Linked DNA regions of Homo sapiens. The protein of the gene in region 1 purifies or fractionates together with the protein of each later gene. This does not show direct contact. Each region holds a gene or a part of one and is shown in the gene's direction. Other genes may lie near its edges.

Region 1 (9,877 bases):
TGACGCTTATATTTTAGTGGGAGGAAACAGACAAGAAGCCACACATAAATAAATGAGGAAATGACATAGCATTTCTAAAAGTGATAATTGAGATGGAAAAAAATCAGAACAGAGTGAGAGAAATCAGGTGTATCAGGGTGAGAGTTGCAATATTAAAAGGGTAGTGAAGGTCTTGTTGAGATGTTGCTTAAGCAAGGACATGAAGATGCAGGAATTAGCCATGTAGCTATCCAGGGAGAGGGACTAGTGAGAGAAAAGGCTCTAAAGTGGGAGCAAGGTTGACTGTGAGTGAAACAGCAAGGAGGTATGGTGGCTGGAGCAAGGTGAAGGAGAAGAAGTGAGAGTCAGAGGGGTAATAGGATCAAATGAGTCAGAGGGGTAATAAGACCAAAATGTAAAGAGCCTTGTAACCACTCTGAGAATATTTCACTCTTAATGATATGAAGACCATAGAGGGACTGGCAGGGAAGTGATGTAATTAAGTTTACTTGTTAAAAGGTCCACTTGACTAGTTTGCTATAGAGGAGCAAGGGCAGAAGCAGGGAGACTAGCAATGAGGATATTGCAGTAATTCATGCCAGAGATGATGGTGTCTTGGACCAAGACCAATTATGAAGGGCGTGAGAGCAGGTGCATTTTGGACTTATTGAAGATAGTGTGTGAGATTTCCTGACAGATTGGATGTGTAAATGAAAGAAAAAAAAAGAACTATTTTGATTCTTGTTGTTTTGTTTTGGTTTTTATTTTTTAACCCAGGCAACTACCATTAGTCAAGAATGAAGTCTACAGGTGGACAGGATTTTGGGGGATGATTAGAAGCTCAACTTGTGGTATCCTGAGGTTAAGATATTTATTAAAATAAAATCAGCTAAGTAAGATCCCAGTATCTGCCTCATGGAAGATGTTACAAGTTATTGCACAAATATTATATATATATAATCTCTCTCAATATATTAAGTACCCCTAGAGTATGAATGAATTAATGAATAAGTATTCATTGAGCAGATGGTACTCAATGAACGACAGACACCATGCTGTGCCCTGTCAAGTAGATGGCTTAACAGAATCCATGTTAGAGCTTCATCAGGTAAATGGTATTGTCTACATCTCACAGAAGAAGAAACTCAGGACAAGTAACTTGACTGAAGTTCACATGGTTAGTAAGTAGTTCTAACTTTAAGATTGAAACTCATTTTTCCACAACTTCAAATAAAACCCCTTTAAAAAATCTTACCAGTGATCTCACAAAAGAAGTATTAGTATATCTGTAAGCAACCATTTATTCAAAATGTGGTTTTTATCTTCAGATTATAACACAAGTGAGCAAAAACAAGCCTGTAAGAAGCACGAACTCTATGTGAGCTTCCGGGATCTGGGATGGCAGGTAGGAATTTTCAGTCAACTTTGGTGCTTCTTTTCTGAATTATCATAAATCCTTAATAAGTCATAGTCTTTGGCAGTAATTTTCCAATATAATACCCAATGATTTTTGACATGACCATTTAGAATATGGCTTATTCACTTTATTTTCATTTCTCAATTAACCTTTTACCATTGAAACATGATTAGTAGGTATCACAGTCAAACAAAAAAACTACGCTGAATGAGACATAGAACACTAAGATATTTAGGAAGAAAAAAAAGAGTGCCGTTGTTTAAGTATTCCAAACTTTTAATTTTATTGTAAATAGAAGATTTGTTCATATTAGTATAAGTAACTCCACTAAGCCTCTGAGGGTCTCCAACTATTGGAATGTCCCTGTCATGGGGAAGATGACAGACATTTTTTTTTCTTGCACTTAAAAATGTATTGCTATCTTTTGGGTAGCCTTTAGAAACAGGATGAGGAGGAAAATTTCACCAAAGTAATTTTTTAATGGCTCTATGTGGTGACAGTTTAAAATGAAATTTTAAGACTTCTCCTAATATTCTATTAGAATGGATTCTCATATATGAGTTCCTGTATTGAGAAATACTATTAAAATGTAAATATATTCAAAATTCATGATAAACTTTCCACATGAATAACTCAATAATTCCTACATTTGTGCCAAGTTTTATTTCTCTGTGGGAAAAATATCAAGGCAACCATTCATGTACCAATTCTTTAGCTTCCCGAAATTTATCATGTTCAGTTTTTAGGAATTTGCTCCAATTTATTTTTTCTAAAGAGACCATAAAGTTAATGCATGAATGGAAAGAAAAACAGCATGCAGAAAAAATATTAAGGCTTTAGGATGTTGTCAGACTTATAAAACTAAGAATGAGTTCTTAAGAAGTAATGAGAATGATCTCAATTAACTTGATTCTCCTTTTTCTTTCGGGTTCACTTGAACTTTCCAGAGTTCATCATTTCCTGTTTAAACAATATTTAGAATGCTATTTTCTTATAATAGTTTTATTCGTGAATACATGTTTAATACATACTATGAATATCTTACATAACTACCCCTTGGGAGTAATTAGAGAGGACAATTTCTTGTGAAAATATTTATACTTTTGTCCTAAACTTCAGCTTAAAATTAAAGGGTGTGGGGAAGATAATTCCATTAGAATAATTGTTGGACCAAGAATAGAAACCTATTCAGATACAATATATTTCAATAACTTTTAAGATTTTTTAAAAATTTTTACTTTGGTGATATTTTTTCTTGTTGTTTTTTTTTTTTTTTTTTTTTTTTTTTTTTTTTTTTTTTGTGTGTGTGTGTGTGTGTGTATGTGTCAGGACTGGATTATAGCACCAGAAGGATACGCTGCATTTTATTGTGATGGAGAATGTTCTTTTCCACTTAACGCCCATATGAATGCCACCAACCACGCTATAGTTCAGACTCTGGTAAGCTTTGTTTTTGAAGGATTAAGAAAAGCTTAGAATGCAAGCATATTATAAAGTTGTTTTAGAGGAAAGCATCTATTTACAATTTTAATGCATTATTTTATCTTCTCAAACTCATTTGTTTCTTTTTAGAGCTGAAGTAACAACTGTGGGTATAGTCAGGAAACTCGGGCTGGTTTAGAGTAATCCCAGTTACACAATGGAGAAGGATTCAGCTAGGAAAACTGGAGTAATAACATGAAATGGTCATCTTGAACTGTTTGTTCATTACACAGTATGACTAAGCACACAGGTTCCCTGGGGCTGTTTCTAACCTAGCAATTCATTAGTAATCATTGCAAAAACATTGAGTAATAGCTGTACTAAATTTCATCTGAGGGTTTTTAATTATTTAAGAATGTTCTATAACATACTTTGGTATTATAAAAGTTCTTCAATGTAGTATACAAATAGGAAGCTAATTTCTATTTCTTATTGTTCTCCTCCTCCTCCTGTAATCTTTAAAGTAGAAATTATACTTCCTTTTCTTTATTCCTCAATCTCAGAAACTTAGCAGTGATTAAATCTCTAATAATCTAGGCTTATTTTTATGAACAATGTACTGAAGGGTTGACGTGATTAACTGATTGCCTTGTACCTAATGAGCTCATGAAACCTATTGAGAGTCTGATGTACCTCATAGCATCTGGCCTATCGATTTGGCAGAGGAACAATCTCCCTAAGACTAAATGAGAGGCTCCTAGAAAACATACCAGACTATGTGACATAATTTTAAATCAATGTTTGGGCTAATATAAAAATTTTAACTTTTGTATTTAAGAAGAATGGGAGAGAACACATTATTTTAGAATCAAGGCTTGATGGGAGTGGAATTATTTGGTGGACGCCAGTAAGAGAAAAGTAGATAGTAGACAATCTTGTCTTTGTGGGTGAGGTTTATTTATGGAAAAAGAAAGAATTACTCTTAGAATTTGTGAAGATTCGACTCTCCATAAGTTTGCTATTTTCCCCCACAATTAATTTAAAACTTAAAGCTGAATTAAGGAATAAACAATGATATCTGTGAACTGGCAAAAGCAAATACTTGAATGACTTGATATTTACTGGCATCTTTATTGACTTAATAAAATACGACAGAATATCTAGACACCAAAAAGTGCAATCTATAACAACTAGAGCATGAACGTTATCAAAGACTGGAAATAACCTTGGGCTAGAGAGCAACAGAAAGATAAAGCAAATATACATTTTGATAATAAATTATTTATAAGTATTCTTCTTTTTATTGATTCATGACCAGTGAGAATGCCTACTTTAGTGCCATATACAAGGTAAAGAGTAAATTTCTGGGGGGATTTAAAGTCTGATATGACTTCACCTTTGCTATCTGTAAGTATAAGCTCTTCTTTATATGGAATAGTGTTTCCAGGAGTATGGAGTGTAGGTAGGCTTTGCAAGGATGGATGTTTTGCATTCAAACTTCTACCACTAAAAGAATTTTTAAGAAGCTAACTTTTCTCTTTGTATATGAGAATTCATGTTGACATGAAAGCATATCAGATAAAGAAGAATGCTGTTGTTTCATCCTATGAAGAGAACTTCATGATCACTGTCTTTCTGTAAGGTCATAGAATAACTCCTATCAGTTGAAGTAATGCTATTTAATTTCTCAGAAAATTCTTTGCCTCTTTTTATCATCATTTTGATGACTATGAAAGCAGACTTTTGCTTCCTTAGATATGGATCTAATGTATCAAAAATTCCCTCAGGCTAAGCAATGCCTACTTATTGAAAAATACCCTTTGTCAAATACTCCCCCTTCTCTCATTTTTTCTTTTTTAAAATAAATAAATACATATTTTCAGCTCTTATGGCTGTAGTAAAGTATCAAAAAACAAATATAAAAAAAATCTGACACAAACTTTGAACAAGAGTCTGCTCTGTATCTCTACCCTGGGATGTAGGACATAAGTCATTGCAAAACTGGAGCATACACGTGAAGTTTGATTTTTTTTCCCTGGTGTTGTGCACGCTTTATGTTTGTTCTGTGAAGGACATGAAACAAAAAGACGGAGGAAAGCATGTTTGTGACTAATATATTGAGAAACCATTCAAGAACAATCCATTTTTTTTCCGTTAGGCTGCCAAGGCCATTGAAACAGCAGGATTATCAATCATGTATGTGTGGGTTATGGAAGATAAAGCTGATGAAGGACATAAGCAGCATCAGAAATTTGTAGAAACTATCCAACTTTTAGTTTTGTGAGGCCTTAGGAAATTTCAAGTTCATGTCAGATCACCTCATTTTTCCTGCTGTTTCTGTCCACATGCAAGGCCCCTATATCATTTCAGCCAGGACGTTGTACAGCCAAAACTGTAAGAGGCTGTATTTGCTTTTTGTGGATCCCGTAAGACTCATCAGTGGGATTTCCCATAAACTCCTCTGGGGGAAGGGCCAGAATAGGTGGGTGGGAAATGGGGGAACTGTGTTCTGGCTCTTTTCTCAATTATTTCAAATCATAGGCAGACTGCCAGTCTGATCAAAATTATTATCAACCCTTTACTTAAGCATTTCACTTTTCATGTACAGACACCTTTTTAGGCTTTTGGGGAGGTGGATGTTCATTTGTAAAGTCTCTAGGCCCTTTGCTTCTGATTTAGCTTAGCCTGCTTTTTGGCACTTGTCTAGGGGGCAGGCAAGGGAGAAAAAAAGTAAATGGATATTAAACTCCAGCCAATGTGATAAAAAAATTCTATGAAGAGCTGAAATCATTGCTCTAAGGCAAGTATTGGATTATATGTGGATTTTATTTTATTATGATTTTTATGCTTCTTTTACCATGGAAAATTAAGAGTTGGCTTAAAATGTATGATTTATTGCTTAATTTTCCTTTTAAAAGATAATTCTTAGATCCAAATCTTTCTGCAACTATGTGTTTTCATTGATTTGCTCTTGTAACTTCCATATTCCTCATGATATATATAGGAACAGTTATTTCAACTAAAAGCAACAACGTGCTAGTTGCTGTGTTCTTTCCCTAGGAAAACTTCCACTGAATATTCTATAGAGGAAGTTTTCTTTATTTGGTGAGATATTTTTCAAGGTTCAAACACATAATTGAATTGGCTGGGTTGATTCCAGGTGTTAATGCTTAAGAATACATCCTTCAGTCCCCCACCCCAGTCATGGAATAAATGGGAGAAGGGAGATCAGCTTAATGGTGTGCCTGATTATGAGTGATAAAATAATCATACCATTTTAAAACTGCAAAAGAATGTATATTTTATTTCTTAATAAAACAAAACCTTTTTTCTTTCCCAGGTTCATCTGATGTTTCCTGACCACGTACCAAAGCCTTGTTGTGCTCCAACCAAATTAAATGCCATCTCTGTTCTGTACTTTGATGACAGCTCCAATGTCATTTTGAAAAAATATAGAAATATGGTAGTACGCTCATGTGGCTGCCACTAATATTAAATAATATTGATAATAACAAAAAGATCTGTATTAAGGTTTATGGCTGCAATAAAAAGCATACTTTCAGACAAACGGGGAATTTCCTAAAATTAGTCTGGCTCATTTTGACTCTTTTCCTATGTACAATATCATGTATATAGTCATTTTTATTTATTTAAACGTATATATTCTCTTCTGTGGAGGCTTTATCAATAAAATCTATTTCATAGGCCACTACATTATACAATAGATCATCTAGTATAATTTTCAATGGGTTATGCTGAGTCCATTCAATTCCATTTCAACATTTTTTTCTAATACAATTTTACATAATTTTCTGAGATTAGACAGAACTCCTTTGACTGTTTAATATTGTGGAAGGAAATTGAATAATTTAGTTATATTGTGCCAATGAAAACCATGATAGAATATTTATTTAGAAATAAGACTTAAAAAAATAACAACCCAAACAAAAATTCTTGGATAAACACAATTTCTCTTTTAGAGTTCCTGCTTCATTAGATAAAGTGAAATGTTGAACTGGATTTGAATAAATAAACGGTAGGCAGAACATAGAAGCTGAAAGATTGCACAGAATTGTTTTAACTGTTTGCTTTAACAGAAGTGGTGTAACTGTAGGAGCATGTTCCTTTTTGGCTTGTGGATTGTAGATTTTGCAAAGAGCTCAAAGCTTCAGGAGACAGGCTTGAGCCTGTGTCCATAGCTTTCCAAGTTAACACTAATTGTAGTACAACCTTCTTACCTCAAATAAATCATGTCTGCCTATTATCTAGAACACTACTGCTGCAGAATTTTTTTTTCAGATTTAAAAACCTAGTCCAAAATAAAGAAACATTTACATGTGCTCCACTTTCCTCCCCACAGGCAAGAGTCACTGCATGCGTAAAATGTACAAGAGCAGAAGATGCCGAAAGAACCATTTTCTTTAGCTCTCCTTTATAACTGAGTTTGCTGATTGATGTGATGCAAGGGATTTTATTTAGAAGTAAAAGCACTGAAACTAAACTGGAGGAAATTACCAAAAGTCCCAGAATGGCTTTGACAGAATTGCCATTTCTAAAGAACAGCTGAAATTCATTTTTCATATCTTTGAGAGTGAGCTCAATGAAAACCTTATTTTGTAAAGGCATTTTGTAAACCTTCTTCCAAGCACAAATAATTCCAAACAGGAAGGTTCTGTTGTGTGTGTGTGTGTGTGTGTGTCTGTGTGTGCATGTGTGTTCTTCCCTCTAAAATTAATTTATTTTCTCTATCTATTAGAATGCCCTCTAAGGCCTTTCTTTAACACACACTGACTTTTTGAAGAATGATCTTTAGATTGATAACTTGCTATTTATGGTGACTCTGTGGTTAGGCTTATTTACCGTTAATCTAAAGTATTCATAAAGCACCATTTATTAATCATCCTTTTGGATCTTTCAAACCAAACGTATACCAAAAATGTCTTCAAAAATGTTATGGCTTTGTTTGTAATTCGGGTATATTAAAATGTTGTTTTGAAATACAGTTTATCTTAAAGAAAATTTGACAGTAACTATATTAAGGGGTACATTAAGTAATATATTTTTAATTAATGGTGTACCATTGAGAGAATAAGAAATGGAAGTCTATTGTTTTATTCTTTAAATGTGCTGTTTAAATATATTTCCATATTTTAAAATATATTAAACAGATGCTAATTTCTGCTGTTCTTGATTTGGTTCTTTATTTAAAAGGAATACAAAATGTAAGTATATCATAAATTGAGACAATAAGAATATTTATCAAATGTAAACTGTTTGTGGATCACATGATTCTTTATGTTGTTCTTAATTGCCAAAATTGTTTTTTGTGTTGTTAATAATTATCTCACTATTAAATGTGCAAAGCAACAATCCATGAATTAAAGATTTTCTTAATCTGTTCAAACAACAAATTTTAAAAATAGCAAAAAATAATTAGAATGGAGAAATACCTCATTTGTTCTTTTTCATATGAGAAGGGAGGTAATTGGCATCAGTGCTTTTGCATTTTCTAAAATTACATATGTGTAGCATAATACGCACATATACTTGGTCACATTAGTTTCTAATAACTATTACAGTAAACTCTTAGTATCACCTTGGTGATACTCAAGCTCTTACTAGACACCAGAATAATTTGACCTATTTTAACAGGTCTTCATTCAGGTCTTTTTAGTTCGTTAATGATGTACTCACTTTTTTGATTGTTTATTTTTAATTTTTCTGTTTTATACTTGTTTTTACTTTGTAAAGTGGCCATAATCCTTTTTGGAAATAGAAGGGCATAAATCATAAATATTCAAATTCTTTAAAACTAAGGCAAAAATAGTCTACATTAAACTAAAGAAATTAAGAAAACACAGGCAGAAAATCCAAAATTATTTTTTTCTCAACTAAGAACTGTCATTTTATAATCCTAGTATCATCATCATCAAACCCAAGCCAGAGTCTACTGGGTACTTCACAAGCTGGCAGATATCATCTCCCAAGACATTTACAATGAATAATTAGCTTATGTTCCAGTTCCATTCAAGGCAGAAGAAATCCTCATTCCCAAACACAAGTAACCATCTCATAACCATTCAGTCCAGTGCTCAATCTATTATCTAATTTCCATCTCAGATTACCTATTTTTCCTTTCACAATTTTTTTTTTGGTCTGGAATTTTTTAAAGTTAGAAGTGAAGATGCCTTTGCTGATAAAGCATAAAAATTGTTGGTATACAGGTATACATCTGTGTTTTATCAAGTTTCTTTAAGATCATAATTGAAGAGAAAGTACAAAAAGTAACAATCAATGTCAATGCTTATTTAAGTAGAAAATGATGCTATATCCAAGTTAGCAATTTTAAAAAAATAGCAAAGGCTCTGCAAAATTTTAAAAGTCTATTGTGATATTTGTTAAAGGCTGTTTTAAATACAGAGATTTCAAAGACAGGAAAAGTCACATCAGATACAGCCTTTGAAAATTACAAAGAAATTTCAAAAATTAAAAGCATGTATGTTAACTTTTGCATCCTTGTTTCAACTTCACTAAGGCAGCTAGCCTAAAATCAATTCTGGGCCAGGCGTAGTAGCTCACATTTGTAATCCCAGCACTTTGGGAGGCCGAGGGGGTGGATCACCTGAGGTCAGGAGTTTGAGACCAGACTGACCAACATGGTGAAACTCCATCTCTGCTAAAAATACAAAATTAGCTGAATGTGGTGGCACATGCCTGTAATCCCAGCTACTTGGGAAGTTGAGGCAGGAGAATTGCTTGAACCTGGGAGGCAGAGGTTGCAGTGAGTTGAGATCATACCATTGCACTCCAACGTGGGCAACAAGAGCGAAACTCCATCTCAAAAATCAAATCAAATCAAATCAAATCAAATCTGAAGGGTCAAGGTAGGGGATGGGTAGATACAGTAGAGCCTCAACTTCTGTAAATTATAGAGAAGAGAATAAAGTAGATAATACTGCATAAACAGCCTCAAGAATCAGTCTGGAAACAGGACCTAACCCAAGAGTTTAGTGGGATATAAGCAATATATTTTTCAGTTCATTGTGCATAATACTATAT
Region 2 (9,755 bases), on another chromosome or scaffold:
ATGCCCATTCAAAATATTTTAAATTATGGAGTTGCCTAACTTCTAAAGATTGGTTACTCGAATTGTTAACATTTCCTGAATACCTACTGTGTGCCAGGTGTTTTGCTAGACACTTTACATCTGTTATTGAAGCCTCACAACACTCTATTAAGTACTATCATATCTTTTTTTTTTTTTTTTTTTTTTGAGACAGGGTCTTGGCTCTGTTGCCAGGCTGGAGTGTGGTGGAGCGATCTTGGCTCACTGCAACCTCGACTCCTTGGTTCAAGTGATTATCCTGCCTCAGCCTCCTGAGTAGCTGGGATTACAGGCACGTGCCATCACGCCCAGCTAATTTTTGTATTTTTGGTAAAGACGGGGTTTCACCATGTTGGCCAGGATGGTCTCGATCTCCTGACCTCATGACCACCCGCCTCAGCCTCCCAAAGTGCTGAATTACAGGCGTGAGCCACCAAGTCCAGCCATATCTGTTTTACAGATGAAAATATTGAGGTGCAGAAAAGATAGCAATTTGGCTAATGTCATACAACTAGAAGTGATGAAGTATGATTGAAGCCCAGATTTGCCTGGTTCAAAAGCCCATAGTCTTCTTCGTATTTCTTCCTTACTTAAATCTATTTGCTCACATGGATTTGAGCTGCCTAAGTGTGGTGGAGGGAAAAAGTAATGTAAGTTGGCAACCTACTAGAAAGTGTCAATATTCTTAGTATGCAGAAAGCTCTTAAAATTAGTTAGAAAAATATTTTAAAAATACACAAAGGAGAATTAGATAAATAATAACTAAAAACACAAATTACTTATGAAAAAATGTTTATCCTTACTGGTAATCAAAGGGATAAAAATAAAAATACCCATCTATCTGGTCAGCCCTTTCTCTCTCTCCAAACCAGTCCCCCTAGCCCCTGTCTCCCACCTGTCTTCTCCAGCTCTGCAGCAGGCATACATCAAATGAAAGAGGCTGGGAATGGTGGCTCATGCCTGTAATCCCAGTAGTTTGGGAGGCAGAGGCAGGGAGATCACTTGAGCCCAGGAGTTTAAGACCAGCCTGGGAAACATAGTGAAACCTTGTCACTACAAAAAAACAAATTAGCTAGGCATGGTGGTACATGCCTGTAGTCCCAGCTACTAGGGAGGCTGAGGTGGGAGAATTGCTTGAGCCCAGGAGGTAGTGGCTGCAATGAGCTGTAATCATGCCACTGCACTCCAGCCTGGGTGACAGAGCCAGATCCTGTCTCAAAAAAATGGAAAAAAGAGCAATAAGAGGTCAGTCTTGGAGTACCAAAGAACCAGTGACTTTTGTGTTTTTTTTGTTTTTTTGTTTGTTTTTTGTTTTGAAACAGAGTTTTACTCTTGTTGCCCAAGTTGGAGTGCAATGGCACGATCTCAGGTCACTGCAATCTCTGCCTCCTGAGTTCAAGCGATTCTCCTGCCTCAGCCTCCCGAGTAGCTGGGATTACAGGTGCACATCACCGCACCCAGCTAATTTTTTGTATTTTTAGTAGAAATGGGGTTTCTCCATGTTAGCTAGGCTGGTCTCGAACTCCTGACCTCAGGTGATCCGCCCGCCTCGGCCTCCCAAAGTGTTGGGATTACAGGCGTGAGCCACTGCACCTGGCTGTGATTTTCCTTTTTCCCTCCCTCTCTATAAAGAACAGTTGTACAGCTTCATGACTGAAATGTGTGGCACATGGGTGATCTCCTATAGGTATTACTAAAGATGAATATTCTTGGGCCCTTTCAGACCTATTGACTCAGAATCTCTGGGTGCAGGGAGGAACGAAACCCTATAATCTGCATTTTAATAAGTTCTCCAGGTAATTAGGATGCACACAAAAGTCTGGGAACCAGTGGTATGAACCTTTGATTTCTTAGCTGGGGTAGACAGTAGGGAGGAGTGGAGCACCCACCTTTTTTCAGTCAGACATAGCATGGAAGGATTATTAGTTGCATTTTTCATCAAGTTACATTAATGTGGTATGTAAAAAATATTCCTCCCAAACTCTGGAAAGAGCTTGACAGTCAATACTAGCTTTTGGTAGTGTGATTTTCTTTTTTCTTTTTTTTTTTTTTTTTGAGACAGAGTCTCACTCTGTTGCCCGGGCTGGAATGCACTGGTGCGATCTCAGCTCACTGCAACCTCTGCTTCCCGGGTTCAAGCGATTCTCCTGCCCCTGCCTCCCGAGTAGCTGGGATTACAGGCACCCACCATCACGCCTGGCTAATTTTTGTATTTTTAGTAGAGATGGGGTATTGCCATGTTGGCCAGGCTGGTCTCAACTCCTGACCTCAGGTGATCCACCCATCTCAGCCTCCCAAAGTGCTGGGATTATAGGTTTGAGCCACTGTGCCCGGCTGGTAGCTTGTTTTTTAATAAGCATGTGATCAGATATTTTAGTGAGAGTTTGAGAGACTTTACACAGATTGTGATGAACATCTTTTAAAACAAAACACCTTTGGTTCTTCTTTAAAAACATTGTGAAGGTCCATTCTTTCCCATTCAGTCTCATTGCCATCAGCACTGTTCATCATTTCAAGTAGAGACTATTTTTACTGCCACGTAGCTAGCACTTGATGCTTCCTGTCTTCCTAATTCAATTCATAGTATGTCACCACCTAAAACACGATCAAAAAGTCCAGTAGCTGCCCAGTTTGCTCATCGGATGAAGTCCAACTTCATCCAGCTACTCAAGATTCTTCACTCTGTAACCTTCTCCTCCTGCTCTGCCAACACCTTCTACTACTTTCGAAAGATTAACCTCCTCATCTGGCTGGTCTCATGGCCCCTGTAACTGAACTCTGTCAGGACTCCAAGCCTCTACTTAGGCTCTATACCCCGCTTCTCTGTGTATCCAGTCCTAAATGGCATTCAAAGTTAAGCTCAGGTGCTGCCTTTTCTCAGGCTCAAAGTTTTCCTCCCCATTGTAGCTTTGTCACTCTAAAAAACCTTCACCATTTTTCCATTTCCTGGAGGTTAATGTGCAAACTCCTTCTCTTGGCATACAACATGGCCCCAGATTCTCTTTCTGGTCTTATTCTTACAAACTGTTGTATATACTTGACCTCTAGACACACTGAATCACTCTCTGGTTCTCAATCATGCCCTGCACTTTCAGCTGTTTCTTTCTCTCTCTCTCTGTACATGATCTGTCTGCCAGATTTGACTTGTCTCAGCCTGACAAACTCTTGTATAATATATCCTACATGAATCATTTCAAACACTACCTTCTCTGTGAAGACTCCAGGTGCAGCAATCCACTCCACAGTATGTTGAACCTAAATCTCTTGACACGTGTCTCACTGTATTGCAATTCTTTATTTGCATATTTATCATCAATACCTAATGTGAGCCCATTGATTCACAGTATCTAGCAGGGTACTGTTTATACAGCAGTTACTCAATAAATGTTGTCGTTGGGAGGCTGAGGCAGGAGGATCACTTGAGGCCAGGAGCTTGAGACCAGCCTGGGCAACATAACAAGACTCCACTGCTACGAAAACAAAAACACAAAAATTAGCCAGGCACAGTGGTGCACGCCTGTAGTCTCAGCTACTAGGGAGGCTGAAGCAGGAGGATCACTCGAGCCCAGGAGTTCGAGGTTGCAATGAGCTATAATACTGCCGCTGCACCCCAGCCTGGGCAACAGAGTGAGACTTTGTCTCTAAAAAAAATAAAACTAGGCAAAAAATGTTGTTGAATGCTCTAACTTGTGTTGATCTCTCCATTGTCTTAACTCCAAGAGCTCTTAGTGCTTATATCAACCACTTTGCAAAATTGCCTTAGGTTGTTCTCCCATTCTTTCAGGTGTCTACTGAGTTCCAGCGAGATTAAATGGAGATATCTTGACCAAGGTATTCAATTCTTCTAGCCTCAGTTTCTTCATCTGTAAAACGGAGGATAATAATAGTACCTCAAAGCATTTTTATGTGAAATGGGATAATTCATTAAAATCTTGATACATACAATGTGCTCAAAGTAGGAAAAGCATTTTATAAGCTTACATCCTAAATTTATGTCTTAGGGTTGCTATGAGGATTAAATGAGAAGATACACATGAAACGAAGTCATAATATATTGTGTAACTACTTATTACCTTTATTTTCACTGTCTCCTCATCTAGGTTAGAAGCCTGGTTCAGCCTTCATTCCTCAAGTTCTTCCGCTGGATGCCCAAAGCCTTCCTTACCTAGCCTTGTTTGACTTTTACAGTCTCCACTCTAACACTCTCTTCTCAGCACTCATCACAGGGTCAGGCGCAGGGTAGGTGCTATGTATTTAGACAGTGGCAGCTCTAGAATTAGCAAGGTCTTTAGCTGAAAGTGAGGTCTTCTGCCTTCTTTTTGATGTTTGCTTGTATAACTTGTCTCAAATATTTTGCCTTAGTCAATTCACTGTGACATTTTGGGGATGCAGTCTAATTACATTAGGCTTAGTTTGCTTTGTGGTAGGACCATTTCCGATGTTGGAATGTACAAGAGGGAGGCAGCCTTAGCCAGTGTCCTACTTTTTCCTTTACTAAAGACATAAATCATCTTTATATAACTTTTGTATTACAGCATGACTAGAAAAGTGCTTGATCTGGATCCTTTCTGATATTTAAGCAATTTCCATCTATCACTAAGATGTGAATTTTTTCCTTAGAATTTAGGAAGCGGTAATAAAACACAGAAACAAACAACCACCACCAAAAGGACAAAGGGTAAAGCTTTCACGTACGGTTTGGAAACACTAGTGTGGTTACAATGAATCAAGACAGTTGTGAAAGTTCCCATCATCTTGTGCATGTTTTCTCCATTTCCGAAATCTGAAGCCGAATACAGGGAAAGCTCCCTATACTTACTGGGCCTTTAACTAAGAAACGAAGACTTGGGGCAAGCATCTGAAGAGTCACACCGACAAATGCTCCTAAAACCCTTGGCATTTACTGAACTCCTGAGATTCTGTGGGATCGCAGGGAAACGGCGGGTGAAGGCCTGGTGCATCCAGGTGAACAGACAGTCTCACGGACTGCGAGGCGCTTGCCAGAGCCCAGCGCCGCAGCTCGGAGCACCCCCGCGGTGCGGGCAGTCCCGGGACGGTGCCGGCTCTTTGGGCTGGAGCTCCGCAGGCTCTTTCCGCCCGTCTGGGCCATGCAGGGCCGGGTAGGGCCGGGCTGAGTCTACTGAGCCGGCCGCGCCGCGGGGGAAGGAGTTTCCGGCGGACTCGGCTAGGTGCCGCTTCCTGTCCCCTTCTCCGCGCTGCCTCACGGTGCCTGCACGGGACGCCGCTCGATCCCCGAGCCCCCTCGCCGTCCCCGACAGCCCCCCCGGCGCCATGCAATCCCGGCTTCTACTCCTCGGGGCACCCGGAGGCCACGGCGGCCCGGCCTCGCGGCGCATGCGGCTGCTCCTGCGGCAGGTGGTGCAGCGCAGGCCGGGTGGCGACAGGCAGCGGCCGGAGGTCAGACTGTTGCACGCCGGCTCGGGGGCCGACACAGGTAACTCGGGGTGCGCCCCTGTCCTCCCTGGTGCCCCTGCGCTCCGTGCCGGGTCCCCGCGCGCCCCCGCCCCTCCTCTCTGTTGCTTCGCTGCGCTTGGAAGGACCGTTTGCCGAGCGGGGAGCTGAAAGATTGAGGTTCTAGTCCCGACCTCGGCGCTAACTGCTGTGTAACGTGGGGGCAAGGCGCTCGCCCTCTCTGTGCCTGATTCTGCAACCCGAGGGGTCTGGACTAAGGTTTCTGATGACCTAGAAGAGTGATTTCTCCTTCCCCTGCCGCTGCCTTTACCCCCAGAATTCTGACTTAGGTTATAATACTCGTAGAGGTTAATGCCTCAGCCCTATGGAATTATTGAAAGCTGGATTTGACCTTGCTCTCTGAGCCTCAAGGGCCTGGAAGCCGGTCTGTGTCATGTTCTAGCCAGGGCTTGTGGCGGCTTAGAAGGGAACATTCTTGCCAAAGAACCCATAGTTCACGGTGTTTTAAATGCATCCCCGAGCCTTTCCAAGTTTTACAGGAGTTTTCCTTAAAGTTTCACGTAATTCTTAGAGCTGACAGTTACACCTTAATTTAGTTAAAACACTTGCCTCTACAAATGAGGTAATTGAAACCCAGAAGGGAAAAGTGATTCGCTGGAGAACACACAACTAATTACTATGCTAGAATCACATGCTTTGATTTCTAAGCTCAGTATTTTTTGGCTCTACTTGAGCTGGTTTTAGGAATTCTTTTTCTTGTGTGTTGGTGGAGTTAGAGTTACTGTGATGGTTAAGGAAAGGATATCTGTTGTTGCTACCCTTGAATGGTGAAGTGATTCCAGACAAGATTTTGTCAATGTCAGTGCTGCTTGGAATAACAGGTTTTCACTATGAAATTGTAGGTTTCGTTGTCCTCTTGCATTTTCCCCGCAACCCCCAGTTTTCCTTGCTAAGAAATGAGCATATGGGCCGGGCGCGGTGGCTCACGCCTGTAATCCCAGCACTTTGGGAGGCTGAGGCGGGCGGATCACGGGGTCAGGAGATCGAGACCATCCTGGCTAACACGGTGAAACCCCCGTGTCTACTAAAAAGAAAATACAGAAAAATTAGCCGGGCGTGGTGGCGGGCGCCAGTAATCCCAGCTACTCCGGAGGCTGAGGCAGAAGAATGGCGTGAACCCGGGAGGCGGAGCTTGGAGTGACCGGAGCCACTGCACTCCGGCCTGGGCGACAGAGCAAGACTCCATCTCAAAAAAAAAAAAAAAAAAAGCATATTTAGGTCCCACGTATTTCGTTTTATTCATTGAAGACATACACCACCCCCGTCCCCCACCATAGTGTTGCAATTTCAAATTTTACTTTTTGTTTTTTTTTTTTTTTTTGCTTTTTCTCAATTACTCTCACTTCTGGGCTGTTTATTCATTTGTTTTTTACATTTTTTGTGTGTTCTTTATTTGTTTTTTGCTCCTTTGCCCTAGAAGGCAGAGGTCAAAGGTGGAAGTATAGCATAAACTATAGGTTGGGTTTTGGAGTTAAACAATTTGGGTTGGAATCCACTTATCCACTATCTAACCATGGGTCGTTGAGGGTAGGTTACTTAACTTTGTGTCCTAGTTTTCTTAACTGTAAAAGGATAAGAAGAATATATCTATTATGGTTGTTGTGAGGATTTATTAATTAATATAATCTGTGGCACATATTAATGCTCAATAAAAGTTAGCTTTTTTATTCTTAGTATGTACAGTTTTAGCTATTTGAGAATTATTCTGTTTCCTTGCCTTTAGAAGACATGAAACCAAGTTTGTTTAGATTCAGGACTGTTCAGACTATCTGGGTAGGCAGATTTAGCCGAGTGAATTGACTTGAACTTTTTAAAAAACAATTGTTCTTTGTACATGGATAATACATGTTGATTGTAAAAACACATGTGGGTGTGAGTTTTTAAAGTCTGTATTATATACGTATTGGTAGATAAGTTGTAAATGTCCTCAAATTTTGTTATAGCCAGTAAATCAAAGTATAGGCTTTGCTTCAAATGTGAGAGTCATGGACATATTACAGAGAACATACTATCTTCTTTAAATCAGTCATTTACTCTGGCAGGATCAGACCAAAAAGAGGTATTTTTTGAGGGTGTGAGAACTGTAACTGAATGCAGCTGGGAACCCACCAGAGATCTGGACTTGAGTAAGAGCAGTTGTGAGCCAGGTAAATGGACAGCACACTTTTGGCTACTCTGAGGCCTGAGAGTAAGGCTATCAAGATGGAAGTGTCCCATTTTGAATCAGAGATCATACATGGACAAGTGTAAAACTACAAATAGCAATAGGCCATAATGGATTACATCTTATGTTGGGATGATGCTCTCAGCTGCATTCATACATGTGACCAGTAACTGATTATCTCCTCTCTCTGTAATTGACATTGCTTCCTAATAGTTTGAAAAAAGAACAACAAAGTTCATAAATAATATATTTAAGTTATATACTGCTGTTATTTCTCCTGGAGTATTTGTTTTGTTTATCTATATATTCGTTTGGTGCCTGCCAACACTTTGTACCTAGTAAGCATTCAGTGGCTTATTTTGTGAAAGTTCATACAGAGAAGGAGCAGGAGAGGCTGGAATTGTCGTTTGCTCTCAAGAGAGGACCTTTGTTAAGCCTGATAAGCAGAAGGAAAATAGGTCATTTATGTTAAAAACAAAACAAGCAGATAAACTCAACCCAAACCCACTGCTTTTTATCCTGTGCTGTCAGATAGTATAAGTATCTATAATTGTAAATTCTTTATATCTCTTTATACTTCCATTAAAATTACTGTCTCTTGGTTTTAAGAGCAAAGAGGTTAACAAGGATATCTACTGCAGAGAGTTTTCAATAAAGATTATTGTAGTGTTTTTACAGATGGAGCCAAGCAAGTTGTTTCAGTGGGACTCTGATGTTAAATGGATTCAAATATACTATAGATCAAATGATAAACCTAGAAACATAACTGTATAAATATATCATGACATTTTGGTGCTTTCCTTTAACGCCATTATTATTAAAGGGATTCACAGTTTTTTCTTTATGACTCTTGTATATGAAGTAAATTTGTTTATAGAAATACCCTAAAATACTTTTACACAGCAATCTATGTTTATTATAGAAGAGTGATAAGTACAGATTCCCTAAAACATGATCCTCCCACCCAAATTTATAATTATCAACTTTTTAGCATTAATCCTATCAGATTACATATATATGTATAATTATTTATTTATTTATTTTTGAGATGGAGTCTTGCTGTGGCACCCAGGCTGGAGTGCAGTGGAGCAGTCTTGGCTTACTGCAACCTCCACCTCCTGGGTTCAAGCGATTCTCCTGCTTCAGCCTCCCAAGTAGCTGGGACTACAGGTGTGCACCACTGTATTAATCTGTTCTCACACTGCTATAAGGACATGCCAGAGACTGGGTAATTTATGAAGAAAAAGAGGTTTCATGGACTCAATAGTTTCGCATGGCTGGGTAGGCCTCACAATCATTGTGGAAGGCGAAGGAGGAGAAAAGTCACGTCTTACATAGCGGCAAGTAAGAGAGCTTGTGTACAGAAACTCCCCTTTATAGAACCATCAGACCTCGTGAGACTTTTTCACTACCACGAGAACAGCACAGGAAAAACCTGCCCCCATGATTCAATTACCTCCCACTGGGTCCCTCCCATGACACATGGGGATTATGGGAGCTAGAATTCAAGACAAGATTTGGGTCGGACACAGGCAAACCATATGAGCCACCCCAGCTAATTTTTGTATTTTTGGTAGAGATGGGGTTTCACCATGTTGGCCAGGCTGGTCTCGAACTCCTGACTTAAAGTGATCTGCCCATCTTTGCCTCCCAAAGTGCTGGGATTACAGATTTGAGCCACTGTGCCTGGATGATATGTATATTTATACAGATACATTTTTTTAAAGAAATGGGATCATGTATGTTTTATAATTATTACATCCATTATTGTGAACATATTAACATGGTAATAAATATCATTGTACATGATTGTTTAAAGTAGTTATTAAGTTTATATGTTTGTCCATATAATTTATTTTACTGTCTCATTCTTGCACATTCATGTTGTCTAAAATATATAAACAATGCAATAAACATCCATCTACATGAATTTTTGTTATTTTAAGATTATATCCTTGGGCTACAATAGGATTAGATAGAAATAACTTTGAGGAGGGGAAATATAGAACTGTGGCTTCAACTGAGAAATACAGTGTAAAGAGGAAAGAACTATACTGTGGTTTTGGTCTAAGTTTTGTAT

The links.
Region 2: the proteins of BMP5 (region 1) and VWA8 purify together in Homo sapiens (affinity purification with mass spectrometry; 2 studies listed by BioGRID and IntAct, with this or other methods). This does not show direct contact.

Annotation. Positions count from the first base shown.
Region 1 is NC_000006.12:55,751,964-55,761,840, reverse strand, and holds the end of BMP5 (bone morphogenetic protein 5 isoform 1 preproprotein), read left to right. Parts: intron 1-1,307; coding exon 1,308-1,384; intron 1,385-2,725; coding exon 2,726-2,836; intron 2,837-6,158; coding exon 6,159-6,308; 3' UTR 6,309-8,188; downstream 8,189-9,877.
Region 2 is NC_000013.11:41,956,571-41,966,325, reverse strand, and holds the start of VWA8 (von Willebrand factor A domain-containing protein 8 isoform a precursor), read left to right. Parts: upstream 1-5,216; 5' UTR 5,217-5,310; coding exon 5,311-5,473; intron 5,474-9,755. UniProt on the Homo sapiens protein: Exhibits ATPase activity in vitro.